Linked DNA regions of Homo sapiens. The protein of the gene in region 2 purifies or fractionates together with the protein of the main gene of each other region. This does not show direct contact. Each region holds a gene or a part of one and is shown on either strand. Other genes may lie near its edges.

What was found. Proteins that work in one complex are often made in the same cells at the same time.
Region 1: the proteins of PISD (region 2) and PPP6R2 purify together in Homo sapiens (co-immunoprecipitation; one large-scale study listed by IntAct). This does not show direct contact.

The regions. Positions count from the first base shown.
Region 1 is NC_000022.11:50,346,327-50,349,826, reverse strand, and holds part of PPP6R2 (serine/threonine-protein phosphatase 6 regulatory subunit 2), read right to left. Parts: intron 1-3,500. UniProt on the Homo sapiens protein: Regulatory subunit of protein phosphatase 6 (PP6). May function as a scaffolding PP6 subunit. Involved in the PP6-mediated dephosphorylation of NFKBIE opposing its degradation in response to TNF-alpha.
Region 2 is NC_000022.11:31,621,104-31,624,215, forward strand, and holds part of PISD (phosphatidylserine decarboxylase proenzyme, mitochondrial), read right to left. Parts: intron 2,747-3,112; coding exon of another isoform or gene 2,581-2,746; intron 783-2,580; coding exon 546-782; intron 429-545; exon of another isoform or gene 370-428; coding exon 231-369; intron 40-230; coding exon 1-39. UniProt on the Homo sapiens protein: Catalyzes the formation of phosphatidylethanolamine (PtdEtn) from phosphatidylserine (PtdSer). Plays a central role in phospholipid metabolism and in the interorganelle trafficking of phosphatidylserine.

The DNA of each region.
Region 1 (3,500 bases), about 19 Mb from region 2:
TTTTTTTTTTTAAGATGGAGTTTCACTCTTGTTGCCCAGAATGGAATGCAATGTTGTGATCTTGGCTCACTGCAACCTCCGCTTCCCGGGTTCAAGCAATTCTCCTGCCTCAGCTGGGATTACAGGCGCATGCCACCACGCCTGGCTAATTTTTTGTATTTTTAGTAAAGACGGGGTTTCACCATGTTGGCCAGGCTGGTCTCGAATTCCTGACCTCAGGTGATCCACCTGCCTCAGCCTCCCAAACTGCTGGGATTACAGGCATGAGCCACTATGCCTGGCCACATTCTGCTTTTGTGGGTGTGCTTTTATTTATTTTTGGCAGAGATGGGGCCTCACTATGTTGCTCAGGCTGGTCTAGAACTCCTGGCCTCAAGTGATCCTCCCGCCTCAGCCTCCCAAAGTGCTGGGATTATAGGCACGAGTCACCACGTCCAGCCCGTTTTTTTTTTTTTTTTTTTTTGAGACAGGGTCTCACGCTGTCGCCCAGGCTGGAGTGCAATGGAGTGATCACAGCTCACTGCAGCCTTGACCTCCCCAGGCTCAGGTGATCCTGCCACCTCAGTGTCCGAGCAGCTGGGACTATAGGCGCACACCACCATGCCCAACTTTTTTTTTTTTTTTTTTTTTTGAGAGGAAGTCTCACTCTTGTCGCCCAGGCTAGAGTGCAATGGCACAATCTCGGCACACTGCAACCTCCACCTCCCAGGTTCAAGCGATTCTCCTGCCCCAGCCTCCTGAGTAGCTGGGATTACAGGCGCCCACCACCATGCCTGGCTAGTTTTTTTTGTATTTTCAGTAGAGATGGAGTTTCACTATGTTGGCCAAGCTGGTCTCGAACTCCTGACCTCAGGTGATCCGCCCGCCTCAGCATCCCAAAGTGCTGGGATTACAGGCGTGAGCCACTGCGCCCGGCCCTGCTTTTTGTTTTTGTAGAGATAGGGTTTTGTCATGTCCCCAGGCTGCCCTGGCCTTAAGTGATGCTCCCACCTCAGCCTCCCAAAGTGCTGGGATTACAGGCGTGAACCACCGCACCCAGCCCATGTGCTTTTAAATAAATAGCCATCCCCAAGGCTTTATACCTTGCCCCCATGATGACAGTTGTATACCTGCGGCTTGGCCTCTCCTCTGGGTTCCAGACCCTCCTGTAAGATACCTTCTCCCTAGTGACCCTCGGACTTCTCAGACTTCCCCTACTTTCAGCCAAGAGAAAGCCTTGCTTTCTACTTCCAAACTGTAGTAACACCCCCAGCCCTGACACCACCCTAATTCAGCTTCCCTATTTCAATAAACAGTGCTACTATCCACCCATTTGTTCCATCAGAAAGCCTAGAAGGGTTGATGGGGCTGGGAGGATAAAAGCAGCCCAGAAATTACCCTGAGTCCATTCATTCTCTCACACCTCTCTTCTCATCTACCAACAAGTCCCAACAGCTCTACCTCCAAAATATCTCCCTAAACCCACCACCAAGTTCTAAACCATTACAATCACTACACCCAGCTCCCAACACTTCATCTCACCCCCACCTGCTGTCCACGTGCCAATGTCCATATGATCATGGCACTCTCCAACTCAATCTCCAGGCCAGGTTTCTCCTACAACTCAGACTGAAGGTCCAACTCCCTACTAACACCTGCAAGGAACGGCTTAATGAGAAAACCAACTTTCCAGCCCAGGCTCCTGCCTCTCTCTCCCTTACCATAAGCACATCAGTCTTATCTAGGTTCCTGGAGGATATCACACCCAAAATTTCCCACTTCAGGGCCTTTGCATGTGCTGTCCTCTCAGCATGGGAGACTCTGTCCCCCAATTTGTCTCAAAGCTAGCTGCCTCTCACATTCCAAAGATTAACTGAAGTGAGTTAGAAAAGTCAAAGGGGAGAGATATATACACCTATTGTGTACCCACAACATTTTAAAGTAAAAAATAAAAACAAAGGGAAGATAAACCAGAAAAAGGGACATCAAAAAGAGGTGAAGAGCCTCTTTCAGTGAACAGTGAACAGTGTCGGCAACTGCAGGGGCAAGGAGAAGCCAAGAGCAGGGCAGAGAGAGGCCATGAGGGAAGGGTGGATGAAAGAACAAGACACAGGAGAAGGGTCTAGAACAAAATCAGTGGGTACAGTGACAAAGAGGGGGCTGCAGTGAAAGGCAGGGACTAAATGGAAGTGACAGACTTGGGGGAGCTGGTGCTGACAGGTCAGGGAATGAGCAGCAAATTGGGAGGAGTCAGTAACAAGAGAGTGGACAAAGCAGGTAGGGAAGCTGCGAGTACACAGAGTGGCAGGTCGGGGGACAGTACGGTGCATGGGGGAAGGTGACAGGCTGAAGGAAGAGATGATGGGGATGGAAGCAACAGGGCAGTGCGGGGTAAGGTGAGGTTAGATGACTGGTGATATCTCAAGCCGTGATGGGGAGCGCGACAGGAAAAGACGAGTAGTGTTGGAAAGGGTTAGGAAATAATGGAAAGGGGAATCAGTGATTGGACAAGAGGGGTGATGACAGCGGGCACTGAAAGTTCTCCCACTGACAGGCAGGAGAGAAGCAGTGGGGAGACACTGACAGGTGGGGTCACTAACAGCAGGGCAGGGTACTAATGGGTCCCTAACAGATAAGGGATGAAGGAGGTAGCATGAAAGGGGACAGGAACTGACAACAGGGGAGAACTGATGGGGAGGATCTGACAGGCACTAACACAGAGGCCGATAGCAAAGAGCGGAAGGGCCACAACAGGCAGGATGAGGGAGACACTTATGAGGGAAACTTACTGACAGTGGGGCTCACTGACAGAGGCACTGGCACTGATGGGGGGCACTGACAGAGAAGATCAATGACAGGTGGGGACATTGCTGACAGAAGGGGTCACAGAGCGCTTGGACTGACAAGGAAGGGCACTGGCAGGGGAGGGATTATGCGGTCAGTGACTGACGGGTACGGGTGGGGGTGCAGGCACTGATGGGAAGTGGGGACATGACAGAAAGAAAATAATTGACTGGGGGGGCACTGGCTGACGGGGGACAGGGATGCGGGACTCTGACTGGGGGACACTGATGGGGAGCAGAGTGGACTGACGGTGGGGGAGCACTGACCAACAGTGGAGGCACTGACCAGTGCGCGGACTGACAGATGCGGAGGCACTGACCGACAGGAGGAGCATGACTTGCAAGGGGCACTGACTGACGGTGGGGGGCACTGATGGGTGGGGTGGGGACTGATGGGTGAGGTGCAATGACTAGCTAGCAGGGGACACTGACTGGTGCAGGAAGCACTGACTGGTGTAGGGTGGGGGAACAGAAGGAGGGCACTGACTGGGGGGGCACTGACTGACTGGGAGGGAACTGACTGGAGGGGGCCCTGACTTGGGAGGAAACTGACTTGGGGGGCACTTACTGGAGGGGAACTGACTGGAGTGGGCACTGACTGGGGGCACTGATTTGGGGGGCACTGACTGGAGGGGGCACTGACGGGGGAACTGATTGCGGGGGGAACTGACTGGGGGG
Region 2 (3,112 bases):
GGGTGACCAGCTGGTTCTTGAAGGAGTCACACGACGCGGCTGTGGAGTAGGAGCAGACGTGGGGGCCACCAACACAGTGAGCACCCAGCACGGAGCCCGAGTGTGGTCTGCACATGGATTCTCAGGGAGGCCCCACATGCCAGCCTCAGTTCCTTCCCCAGCATTCCCCTCCCTCCCGGTCCAGCCACACAGCAGCAGGGCTGCCTAGCCCCGCCTGTGCAGTGACCCACCTGGTGGGAAGGGCAGGTCCTCTGTGCACATACGCGGGCCCAGGAACGACTCCAGGGAGTAGGTGACCCCCTTTACCTGCTCCACCTCACAGTTCTTCACCTGCCCAAAGTTGAGGATCCTTCCATCCGATGGGCTAATCTGGAAGGGCAGGAGAGGCTTGCTGCCAGGGAGAGCAGGGTCTCCTCCCCCCAGGAGACAGCCCCCACCTCCCCTTGTCATCCTGCCCCTTCCAGATACGCTGGAGACCAGGGGGGCTGTGCTGGGGAGGCAGGAAAAAGTCCTGTTTCCTGCAGGAGGAAAGGGTCAGGCCTCACCACGCTGTGCAGGCCACAGACAGGCCGGGCCTGCGGCTTCAGCTTGCGCCGGAAGAACTCGCTGAGGTTGCGGTAGTGATGCAGGTCCTCCACAGCGGCCTCTTTCATGTTCACCCCAAACGTCCAGATGTACAGGCTGTAGACGGGCCTGCGCAGCCAGTGTGGCAGCTCCACCTGATTGAGGCGACCCCAGGCCCGTGACAGCAAGCGCGTTGGCACTGACTTGTACAAAGCCACCTGCAGGCCACAGGGCAAGGGGCTGAGTTGACCACACTGCCCCAGCTCCAGAGAGCCCAAGTAGTGTCATTAGCCCAGCTCTCACTTCAGGGGAGAATCTGCACCCCACGGAGGACACCAGGGCCCAGGTGCCCCACGCTGCTTTTGTGATGTGGCTGTTTCTCACTGGGAACCAGACTGCACCTGCCACACGGAGTGCTGGATTTACATACAACTCCAGTGGATTTCATCATTTCATGCAAAAGTCAAATAGCAACTGCTCCAGTCCCAGAACGGGAGACGCCCAGCAGTCTTACTTCTTAAAGTGGGGGTCGGAAACGGATCTGATCCTAACCACAGTGTGTGACCCTAGCCACGGTGACCCCAATATCACAGTGTGTGGAGAGGTGGTGGGCATCTTGCCCGTGGTCACTGCCCATATCCCAGACCACCAAAGGAGGAGGCTCCCAAGTGCATGGAACAAGTCTACAGCCCAAAGTGTGTCCCTCTGTCTTAACAGGAAGAAGGAGGATACCCTGAGCACCAACAGGGATTTTCAGATGCAGGTCTGCGATGTCACTGTCACCTGGGCCTGAGCTGCAGACACAGGGTCTGCAGCCCCCACAGGTCCAGCCAGCACTCTTGAGGGCCTGGATGCAGCCAGTCTGAGAAGCCCAGCCCTGCTGAGCCCCACCTTGGCCCCACGGCAGGACTTGTGTTCAACGTTCTACTGTGACTGAGCCAGGCCATAAAGCCATCTGCACCTGGGGTTCCTCCCAGGAGGCAAAGAGAAGTCATCCCCTCAGGCCCCTCTGTTCTCTCTTCCTTCAGGGAAGCCTGGAGCACCTAAGACAGACGATGGCCTGGGGACAAGCACTGGGTCCCACTAGATGGTCCCAGAGCTCTCCGGCAGGGCCAGGTACCCAGGAAGGGGCAGCCTCTTAAACTTCAGGTGCTGCTGCCACTGTAGAAGCTGCCTGTAATTGGTGGCTGCTGCTTCTCTAAACACAACCAAGACACCAACTCCCCAAGGTGTAAAACTGATTTCATTCCAACTTTCAACACCTCTCCAAGGTAAGGTAAGCTCCCAGAGAGCTGCTCTTATCCCTTCCAGCTGATGCCCAGTCACACAGAAGGGCTATGTGAGCCCAGGCCCTTCCCAGGCACAGGTGGGAGCCTGGGCTAATGTCCAGGGTGCCTCAGTGCCCCTGAGCTCTGATGACACCCATGTGACTGTCAAAGGCCCAGGAACAGGGTTTCCTCCTTGGGGTCAACCTGCCTGGGAAGCCAAGGGCAAGAGCAAGCCCTCTAGGGACCAGGAGAGGACAAGCCAGTTCCCTTGCCCATTCCTGGGGCATGCCTCTGGGTTCCTTAAGGGTGTCCTCACCCTAAGGGACCCAAACAGGATCCATCCATCCTGAACCACCCCTTTGGCATCCCGGAATTAATTTGGCTTCTGTTCAAAATCACCTATAAGCTCTTTTTTGCTTGAACACAGAAAAATCAGAGACAGACACCATTTTCTGAATCCCCAGACTGGGTTCCTTCCAGAACCAGAGCCCCAAATGGCAGACATGAGGCAGGCTAGGGGAGTGGGCAGGGCACGACATGCCCTCGCAGTCACCCGCGGCCCAGGTAGTGGCCTTCTCAAAAGCTGCCTTGGCCTTGCCCACCAATGAACCTTCCGACCCGGACCCCCTGAAGATGTAGCGGTGACCTCTGCTTCTGACAGCTCGCCACCACCTCAGTCTCTCCTGCACCCCAACCTCAGGCCTGCCCGGAAGGGAGGTCCGAGCCACAGGGGCCTGTGCACACTTACCCTGCTTACGGGCCTCCATCCCACCCGGCTGAGCGGTCTGAGGGCGCCGAAGGGCAGGAGGTAGTAGAGGACGGTCAAGGGCCAGGAGCGCAGTTTCAGAGCGGGTCTGGACATGCAGCTCAGCTGCCCCAGCCTCCGCCTCAGGGCCAGCTGGGGGAAGTGCAACCTGCAGGGCACAGGTCCATGCACAGCCAGGTCAGTGGCCAGGCTCTGGGCAGGACCCAGGAGGCTGCCACCTGCACCCAGGGCAGGATTCCTCCTGTCTACCCACCCTTGGCAAGCTGCCTCTCCATGGGGGTGATGGAGCCCAGCAAGCACTGGCTGTGCCCCCTCGTCCCAACCCCATTCTGATTCAGGGGCTTGGCTGCCTCTGGCTAGCGGACTCATTTCCCAGGCTCTCCCACCCGCCAGCCAGCTGGGGAGGACTGGGAATGTGGGGGCAGCCGCAAGAGGAGAGTCAGGCCCAGCTGCGGGGCACCTCTCAGCTGCAGCAGCTCCCAGCAAGGGCCTCCAGGCCCAAGCACCTGGGCCC